Homo sapiens: one gene and its partners. The protein of the gene in region 1 purifies or fractionates together with the protein of each later gene. This does not show direct contact. Each region holds a gene or a part of one and is shown in the gene's direction. Other genes may lie near its edges.

Evidence for each region.
Region 2: the proteins of EPC2 (region 1) and KSR2 purify together in Homo sapiens (co-immunoprecipitation; one large-scale study listed by IntAct). This does not show direct contact.
Region 3: the proteins of EPC2 (region 1) and RAB18 purify together in Homo sapiens (co-immunoprecipitation; one large-scale study listed by IntAct). This does not show direct contact.

What each region holds. Positions count from the first base shown.
Region 1 is NC_000002.12:148,766,751-148,770,250, forward strand, and holds part of EPC2 (enhancer of polycomb homolog 2), read left to right. Parts: intron 1-2,400; coding exon 2,401-2,490; intron 2,491-3,500. UniProt on the Homo sapiens protein: May play a role in transcription or DNA repair.
Region 2 is NC_000012.12:117,958,991-117,962,490, reverse strand, and holds part of KSR2 (kinase suppressor of Ras 2), read left to right. Parts: intron 1-3,500. UniProt on the Homo sapiens protein: Location-regulated scaffold connecting MEK to RAF. Has very low protein kinase activity and can phosphorylate MAP2K1 at several Ser and Thr residues with very low efficiency (in vitro).
Region 3 is NC_000010.11:27,510,804-27,514,303, forward strand, and holds part of RAB18 (ras-related protein Rab-18), read left to right. Parts: intron 1-3,500. UniProt on the Homo sapiens protein: The small GTPases Rab are key regulators of intracellular membrane trafficking, from the formation of transport vesicles to their fusion with membranes.

The sequences.
Region 1 (3,500 bases):
ACATCATACATACTGGGAAATTATTTAAAATGTTAAGTAAGAAAATGACATAGTTAGATAAATATTTGTATAATAGGCTTATATTGGTGGTACTAATGAGAGCCTAGAAAGTTTTGCTATATATTTCCAGCCCTTTAAGAATGATGCTGTAGACTGGACATTGTGGCTCATGCCTGTAATCCCAGCACTTTGGGAAGCCGAAGCAGGTGGATTGCTTGAGCCCAGGACTTGGAGACCAGCCTGGGCAACATGGTGAAACCCCATCTTTACCGAAAAAACAGAAACAAACGTAGAAAAATTAGCCAGGCGTGGTGACACATGCCTGTAGTCCCAGCTACTCCGGAGGCTGAGGCGGGAGGATTGCTCGAGCCAGGGAGATGAAGGTTGCTGTGAGCCAAGGTTGCACCACTGTACTCCAGCCTGGGCGACAGAGCAAGACCCTGTTTCAAAAAAAAAAAAAAAAAATGAATGATACTGTAGGGTGCTATGACCTACAGAAACTTTTATCGGTGGAATCAGTACATCCAGCCTGAAAGTAGAGCTCACTCAGCATAACTACTCATATGTTTCTCATGCATTAAGGGATCTTCATTTCTGCTCCAAATTCTTGCATTGATTTATATAGTTTCCAGTTCCCATACCCACATGAAAATTGCATTTTGAAACTTTTAGGTTCTTCTGATTGTTTGTATTAGGTCTTAGACAATCCTCATTAATTTTATGGTATCTCCATATTACTAAAGAGTAAGTATTAATGTTTACCTATATTTGGGCGTCATTCAGTGAGGCAGCTATTCAGAGTGTACATCTTATAAAATCAGGATTTTATTGCTGACAAGATCATTAAAGTAATCATATTTTTCTTTGTCTAATAAACCAAGAACAAGGAATAGGGAGCCTTAAGAGAACAAACATTTTAACCAGACTTATGCCACTGAATTGCAGCTGAACAGAGCTAAAACTCTGCCTCTTGATCGTGCTTCCGATTTTCCTAACATTAGCTTTGTCTTCCTATGCCTCAGACTTCTTTTGTCCCCTGGAATCTACCCCGGGGAATCGTAGTTAGGAGGAAGGGGTGATAGATTTTATACACAGAATTTCTGAGACTTTGTGACACTTCCTGTGTATATCTTAGAATAGGTACGTTATTTGCAAAGGAACCAAAGTGTAAAATTCACGTTTGGGATTTCCTTTCAAATTTCAGGTTTGAGGCTTGGTTCCCCATGAAGAAGATTCAGCCCCAGCTCACTGTTTCTGTGTCTCCCCCATAGGGTTGGTGGAGGTATATTGGAACCTCAAACAAATACCTTTCTCCCCTGGATGACCCTGCTCAGTGGTAATTACCACAGTTTGGAAATAATATGGAGAAAACATTTTTCCTCTCGAAATAGGAAGAGAGGGATTTGTGAGGTTCAGAAATTTGCAAGTAAATATGGTTGAGCCAGCGTTTATCAGAAAAAGAGATGTTCTACAAAGTGAGAGTGCGAGACAACTGAAACTTAAGTACCAAAACTTTTAAAAAAATTTTAATAATTATGGGTGGAAATTTATCTAAAACATATTATTTCCCTATCTTCAGTGTATTTGTATATTATTTAATCTGTTTTTGTGACATTTATAAAGCGTGCTCTAATAGGTCAATGCTACTGCCCTAGAAGTCCACTCAATTACATAGGGATATTTGGCCTGATAGGACATGGCCTGGGAAGAGTGCTTTCTAATATGTGACAGCTTTCTGAAAGTCTTTATTCTTTTGCTCTAGCGTTGCGGGCTTATCTCTTCTCTATAACCAATGTGCTTACTTTAGCAAGTCATTTCTCTTCTTCTTTTCTACTTCTGATCTGCTAAGTTTAAAAAGTGATTTTTGAAAAATGAGTTGGGAGATACAAGACTTTCCTTTGAATAAAACCTGGCCTTTATGGCCTTTGGGGTTTTTTTTGTTGTGGTGATTTTTTTTGGCTGTTTATAAGCTGTTTTTATGTCCTAGCTTTTGGCTTTATTACAGAGAGATAAAGTTATTGGATAAAAATACACTTAACCTATAGGTGAAGTAAATATTTAACTGTCATTAAATATTTATAGCCACATACATTATTTATAAAATATAATGGGATGTATAAAAACTGTATTAATTCTAAGACTTAGCACTTCATGTTTAGAAGCAATCAAGCAATACCAATGCCATCTAGACTTAACCTGAAAGAACTAATCCATTAAAAACAATGATTTTTAACTATAGAAAATTTTTGCTAGTCATTGAATGTTTTGGGGAATTCAGTACTTATGATATGTAATATAGAAGTGATTTACTGTTTGTGATCAGATTTACATTTTAGAGTATTACAAACATTGATCTATTGACTTTTGATAACTTCTAAATGGAATGCCTCTTTTGTCTAGGTATTGTCCCCAGTATCAGAACCGGAAGAAGAAAATGATCCTGATGGTCCCTGTGCTTTCAGAAGGCGGGCAGGATGCCAGTATTATGCTGTAAGAACTTTTGTGTGTGTGTGGTGTTTTTGTGAACTGGAATTAACAGGTAACCCATGTCAAGATGACTTAGTCTTGATCTAAAAATGGGAAATGCATCAGTACTTTTTATTTAACATCCTTTATGTGGATACTGGTAAAAGATGCTAAAAGGTACTGAGTCCTTTCAAAGGGCGTCGGAATCCTCTTCTTGGAAATTGATAATTCCTCACATTTTAGAAATTTAGGTTCATTTTGGGCTCTAATTATAGCTTCAGCAGCTGTGAAAATTACTCAGTGTGTCATTACTAGAATTAGGTAAACCCAGAATTTGTAAGTTGGTTCTAGAACCTTTGATGGCTGCTAGGTGTTTATTGAAATTTATTGTTATGCAAGCCCATCTTGTGCATACATACCAGTAAGTATCAAACAAAATAATAATTTTGTTTGATACTTCCATAATGGCAATGTTTTGTCTAATAATTGTATTCATAACTTTTTGACACACCTAGAAGTTGCTTTATGCTATGAAGTCGCATTATATCACTCTCCAAGGTTCTCAATGAGATATAATGTAGCATTGTGAGGATGGCTTTGACTTTCTTATATGGCTTGTAGAGATCATTTATCTTGCTATATAATGGTAAGCATACACTGACAGCTTTTTTAGAGTGTGTAAATTTAGGAGAGGTGGAGATTTGTTTACTAGTTATGTTGATGAGAGAAGGGAAAATTCTTAACGAAAGGGGACAGACAGCATGATAAAATGATGAAGGGAATGGGAAGGCAGGGAACAGCTTGTTTGTTTCTTTATATTTATTTATTTACTTATTTATTTCTTTTAGAGACAGGGTCTTGCTCTGTCACCAAGGCTGGAGTGCAATGGTGCAATCATACAGTTCACCGTAACTTCAAACTCCTGGGCTCCAGTAGTCCGCCCACCTCAGCCTCCTGGGATTACAGGCGCATACCACTACATGCTGCTAATTTTTGTAATTTTTGTAGAGATAGGGTCTTGCTACGTTGCCCAG
Region 2 (3,500 bases), on another chromosome or scaffold:
CCTGGGTGACAGAGGGAGACTACATCTCAAAAAAAAAAAAACCCAAAAAACAAAACAAAACAAAACCCAGGCGATGGGTCATATTGGGCCCATGGGCTGTAGCTTGCTAATCCCTAGGCTGTAGGATAGATGAGAGGGGAAAAACTCTGAAAGACAGAGACCATCCTAAGGTGAGCAAGTGACACTAGAATGGGAGAGTACTAGCCAAGTAGAGGTAGTTTTGAGCTGGATTCTGTTTTAGTTAAATTGCAAGGGGAAAAAAATATTAGGAGTTGAGGTTGAACAAGTATGGAATCTCCTTGTATAGCAAGGGTATTGTAGCTTTTTTTTTTTTTTTTTTTTTAAAGAGACAGGGTCTTGCTCTGTCACCCAGGTTGGAGTACAGTGGTGCCATCATAGCTCACTGCAGCCTTGAACTTCTGGGCTCAAGCGATCCTCCTGTCTCAGCCTCCTGGGTAGCTGAGACTACAGCCACATGTCACTGCACCCAGCTAATTTAAAAATTTTTTATAGAGACAGTATCTTGCTTTGTTGCCCAGGCTGGTCTTAAACTCCTAGCTTCAAGCCACCCTCTTGCCTTGGCCTCCCAAAGTGCTGGGATTACCGGTGTAATCACCACGCCTGGCCTCCCATCATTTCTTTGCTCTTCATATATTCCATCTCAATTTTCTATTGCTGTGTCATGAACTATCTTTAAACTTAATTTCGTTTGGAAAACTTTGGGCTTAAGACAACAATTTGTTATTTTCATGATTCTGTGGGTTGGGCTTGGTTGGAGGGTTCTGCTGGTCTTGCCTGAGCTCCTCTCGTGGCCACATTCAGCTGGTGGAAAGGGAGGAGGATAGGAAAGCTGAGACTTTCTCTCCCTGCAGCCTGTTGGTGCGATAGCTTGGGTTTCTTACAGGTCTCCAGTGTTCCTAGAGAGCAAGAGGGAAAGTGGCAAGGAGTCTTGGTATTTGGAAATCACAGGATGTTACTTCCACTGGAGTTGTGAGATAATATAAGTCCCATGGCCAGCCTGGGTATAGAGGATGGGGAAATAGACTCCCATCTTGGTCAGAGAAGCTGCAAAGTTAGTGTATTAATTAGGACAGACTGTAAGAAATAGACCCCTAAATGTCTTTTTCTTGTTCGCTAAACAGTCCAAGGAGGGTGTTCTTGGTTTGCAGGTGGCGGGCCATTCTCTCATGCTCCAGACCCCTTCCCCTCTGCAGCATTATCATTGGTGCATCTAGAAGGGGGAGAAAGTGCAGAGAAGACAAAGCCTTATTTCCCAAAGTTGCCCTCATCAGTGCATTCCCTTATGCTTGCGTTCCCTTAGCTAGCATTTAGTCACAACACTGCAAAGAAAATGGAGAATGAAGTTTAGCTGAGCTCAGGAAGAAGAGAATAGGCTGGATGTGGTGGGTCACACCTGTAATCCTGGCACTTTGGGATGCCAAGGTGGGAGGATTGCTTGAACCCAGGAGTTCAAGACCAGTCTGGACAATGTGGTGAAGCCCCATATCTACCAAAATACAAAAATTAGTCAGGTGTGGTGGCACGTGCCTATAGTCCCAGCTACTCGGAAGGCTGAGGTGGGAGGATGGTTGGAGACTGGAAGGCAGAGGTTGCAGTGAGCCGAGATTGTACCACTGCACTCCAGCCTCGGTGACAGAGCCAGAACCTGTCTCAAGAAAAAAAAAAAAAAAAAGGAAAAAGAAAATATGCTGAATAGCTAGTAGTCTCTGCCACAGCTAATGATAAGCTGTCATATCAGTTATGTATTGCTATAGAACAACCTACCTCAAAACTTAGTAGCTTAAAACAATCATCATTTGCTCAGATGCCTGCAGTTAGGTATGGACTCAGCTGGCCAGTTCTGCAGATCTTGCCTGACTCACTTGTGGTTGTGTTTATCTGATGGCTCAACTGTGGCTGGAGGGTCCGAGATGGCCCTGCTCACATGGCTGGTGGTTGGCTACAGTGCCTCACTTCTCTGCTCCATGGCTTTTCTGGCAGGATAGCCCGGGTTTCTTACATGGTGGCAGCAACGGTGTTCCTAGAGGACAGGCGCCAGTGTGCAAGCCCTTCCTAAGCCTCTGGTTCTGCAACCTTTGCTAATGTCCTCTTTGCCAGAGCATGTTACATAGATAAGCCCAGAGTCAGTGTGACTATGGATTCCAGGAGGTGTGGTTTATTGAGGGGCTAATGAACAATCTAATGTCACAATATACCACAGCCATGAAAATCAACCAAAACAAAAAGAGCATAGGGGAGCAAGGGAAAGATATGGGATGATCAACAAAGGCTCTTTCATGGAGGTTTTACTAACTTGAGGAAGCCAAGCCATGAAATATTTGGGGGAAGAGTGTGCCAGGCAGAGGGAACAGCAGATGCAAACTTCTTGGATGGGAACATGCTTGGCATGTTATTGGAACCCCAAGGAGTCCACTGTGGTTGGAGAGCAGGGAGTGGGCAGGGAAAGGATGAAGAGGGACGCAGTGGGAGACAGAAGCTGGTCATAGGGGGCTTTGCTAAGACGCTAAGGTACTTGAAGTTTTTTTTTTTTTTTTCTTTTGAGACAGGGTCTCACTCTGTCACCCAGGCTGCAGTGCAGTGGCACTGTCATGGCTCACTGAAGCCTCGACCTCCCAGGCTCAGTCCTTCCTCCCACTTCAGCCTCCCAAGTAGCGGGGACTGCAGATGTGCATCACCATCGCTGGCTACATTTTAAAAATTTTGTAGAGATAGGGTCTCCCTATGTTGCTCAGGCTGGTCTCCAACTCCTGGGCTCAAGTGATGCTCATGCCTTGGCCTCCCAAAGTGCTGAGATTACAGGTGTGAGCCATCATGTCCAGCCTTGGATTTTGTTCTAACTGTGATAGAAGCCCTTTGAACCAGGGGTTATATTTTTAAATGATCTTCTGATTGCTGCAGGGTAAACAGACTGTAGGAGGTAGGAATGAGAGCAGGGAGACAAGTTGGTAGTTATTGTGGAAGTCCAAGCCCTCAATGACTGTGCTTTTGACTGGTATGATTGTTGTGGGGTGGATGGGGCAGGTGGCTGGATTCAGAAGATCAAGTATGTGGAAGGTGCTGATGAATCTGATGTGGATGTGAAGGAGAATCAAGAATCGAAGATTATTCCTAGGTGTTTGGCTTGAGTGCTAGGAGAATGGGGGTCCCCTTGTTTGAAATGTAAGACTGGAGGTGGAATAGATTGGGTTTGACAGTCAAGTCCTGTTTGACATGCTACATTTGTCAAGTAGACAGCTGGATGTGTGAGCTTGGAGCTCTGAGAAAGGCTGGAGATACGAAGTTCACTTAATAGACCATGAACCAATTTTTCAAATTATTAAAGTATTATTATTGTTTAATTAATACATAATAGATGTACATATTTTCAGGGTATGTGTGATATTTAGATACATTCATATAATGTATAATAATCAAATCCAGGTAACTGGGCTATCCATTACCTTAGATGTTTATCTTTTCTTTATACTGAGAACATTCGG
Region 3 (3,500 bases), on another chromosome or scaffold:
CTTTATTTGTTTTCATTGATTGTATGTCTATTTTTAAAATTTTATTGTGAAACAATTTCAGACTCAAAGATTTGTAAAAATAGCACAAATAATTCTTATGTATCCTATTAAATTACTCCAGATGTTAATGTTTGTCACATTTGCTTTATCATTCTCTCTCTACACACAGTATTCTTTTTTAAAAAAATGAGAGTAGATTGTAGACATGATGTCTTCAACGTCTGCATACTTTAATGTGTATTTCTTAAATGAACATAGATACATTTTATTGTCTATACACAGATTTTATCAGTTGTCCCATTAATGTCCCATATAGCAAAAGACAAATAATTGTTTCGGGTCCAGGATCATACACTGATTTTAGTTATTTCTCTTTAGCCTCTTTTATTTCATTTAATTAATGAATTAATTTATTTTCGAGACAGAGTCTAGCTCTGTCGCTCAGGCTGAGTGCAGTGGCACCAACTCAGCTCAGTGCAACCTCCACTTTTCAGGTTCAAGTGATCCTCCTGCCTCAGCCACCCAAGTAGCTGGGACTACAGGCACATGCCACTGCGCCTGGCTAATTTTTTTTTGTATTTTTGATAGAGACGGGGTTTACCATGTTGGCCAGGCTGGTCTTGAGCTCCTGACCTCAAGTGATCTACCCACCTCGGCCTCCCAAAGTACTGGGATTGCAGGTGTGAGCCACCGCGTCGAGCCTCTTCAGCCTCTTTTAATCAGCAATTCTTCAGTCTTTATTTGCCTTTTCAGGGCCTTGACATTTTTGAAGAGTAAATAATTATTTTGTAGAATGTCTCTCAATTTGTGTATGTCCAGTATGTCCTTAACGGTTAGATTCAGGTTATGCAGTTTTGGCAGCAATTCCACAGAAGTGTTTTTCAGAACATAGTGTCAGTGAAGTTATTATTTTTCCCTTCATAACTAATATATTTCTTGTAGAGAGATACATTGAGACTGTATAGGTATCCTCCTTCTTACACTTTTTGCCCTCCTGTTGTAGCATCCATTGATAATTCTTGCCTGTGACAAGTGATAAGGACAGTATATGATCTTTTCATTCCAACTGTGATGGTTATCAAATGGGGATTTTTTTAAAATGCCATCACTCTGTCTATGTATCTTGTTTGGAATTCTGTAAGTAAGAGCTCTTTTTTTTTCTTTTTTTGTGAGGCAGTGTCTCACTGTGTTGCCCAGGCTGGCCTGAGACTCCTGGGCTCAAGTGATCCTCCTGCCTCAGCCTCCCAAGTAGCTGGAACTACAGCCATGTACCACCATGCCCAGCTCAGGAGGAGCTCATGTTTGTTTGTTTCTTTTTCTTCATATGAACTCATGGTGCCTCTAAATTTTCAATAAATTAGGCATTACTTAGCTTTTGCATGATATTAAGATTTACAGATTTACTCTTATTTGTGTCATAGGAAAGGGAATCATTTAAAACACGAATTCAAAATCCATTGTAATTTGGCTTTGTTGTATTATAATAATAATTATTATTATTTAATTTTATTTATTTATTTTTAGACACAGTCTTGCTCTGTTGCCCAGGCTGGAGTGAAGTGGCACAACCTTGGCTCACTGCAGCCTCCACCTCCCCATTCAAGTGATTCTGGTGCCTCAGCCTCCTGTGTAGCTGGGACTACAGGCATGCACCACCACACCTGGCTAATTTTTGTATTTTTAGTAGAGATGGGTTTTGCTATGTTGGCCAGTCTGGTCTTGAACTCCTGGCCTCAAGTGATCCACCCACCTTGGGCCTCCCAAAGTGTTGAGATTATAGGTGTGAGCCACTGTGCCCATACTGGTGTATTATTTACTCCTATAAAAAATTACTTAGTAGTAAAACCTTATTTTGGTCAGAACCTGCCTGAGTACGTATTGGTATTGGCTAGCCAGGAGGAGAGCAGTAGCAACTGGCAGGAAAATAAACTTGCCTAAAGTTAAAATTTTACTGAAGGAATGAACATACATATAATATTAACTGTCTTCATTACAAACCCAAATGGAATTTGGGGACTTGTGGCATGACAAATCGTGGGTTGTCTTTATTACTAAAAAGGCTTTGTCTTCTGCAAAGACAAATACTAAGATTATAGTATGCTGGTGAAAATATATGTAATTTGTTCCCCAAATAGGCCCTAGATCTTGAATATGTTGAACAAAATATCTTTTACATTGAAGCATCAGATTACTTTCAGCCTTAGGTAATAACATATATATATATATATATTTTTTTTTTTTTTTTGGAGACAAGAGTCTCGCTGTGTTGCCCAGGCCGGAGTGCAGTGGTGCATGATCTCAGCTCACTGCAATCTCCGCCTCCCAGGTTCAAGTGATTCTTCTGCCTCAGCCTCCCAAGAAGCTGGGATTGCAGGTGTGTGCCACCATGCCTTGCTAATTTTTATGTTTTTAGTAGAGATGGGGTTTTACTATATTGGCCAGGCTGGTCTTGAACTCCTGACCTCAAGTGATCCACCCGCCTCAGCCTCCCAAAGTGCTAGGATTACAGGTGTGAGCCACCACGCCCAGCCCACACATGAGTTTTAAACATAAAAACAATTACTTAATGGCCTTGTGAAAATTAGTGTTTTATGAAAATTGGTATTTTACCCCACAGTAAAATAGTAGTAAGGAAAGTGTATTGTTACCTTTTAGTAACTTAGTGAGACACTTAAGTTTCTGTCTTGCATAAAATACTCTTTTAAGATAATTGTTGGATTTGGGATTTGCAGATGGTACTATAAAGTTAGCATTCTTCTTTCTTGGCAATTAGCTAAAAACAACAAAGAGAGGGAAAAACTGACACACAAACCCAGCATTCCACTAAACTAGAAGACAGTTAAAAACCCCAAGCCACAAAATAGGTGGAAATGTTGCCAGGAGCAGTGGCCATCAGGCTGGCTGCATGTGGGAAGAAGTAGGTAGGATGCCGTGGCTGTGGAGCTCAGAGACAACAAGAAACACCCATGAAACTGCAAGGCCCCCCTGAGGTATAAAACCTAAACCCCTTGTTTACAAAAGTGAAGTGGGTTTCTTCAGCTCAAGGCAGGAGCTTTCCTGCACCTGGTTTAATTCTAAGAAGTCGGGGAAATGAAGCCAAACAAGGAGTCACATAAACAAGCCATTTTTGCAGGAAGTAATATGTGTCTATCTCTATAGCAGTTGGGGAGGAGATGACTGCATTGTGAAAAACCTCCAGACTGCCTGTCTGCATTGGCTGTTGAGAAGTAAAATGCTAAACTGTCTCTTAGGTAAATCTCTGAATCACGAAAAAGTTGTCAGTCCAGAACTGGAGGCACTCTGGCCTTCTGCATAAACCTCCTACAAATATCAGGTTCTGGACAACCAGCACTTCTTCAGAGATGAATAATCAAAAGGAATTCATTAAGCTTGACTGCCACAAATGTTTGGAAATAAAAAAGGAAGAAAGAAACAGAAAAACAAAGGACAGATGAAGAACAGTAACCTAAAATATTGCCATAAAGAAGATGAATATTGTG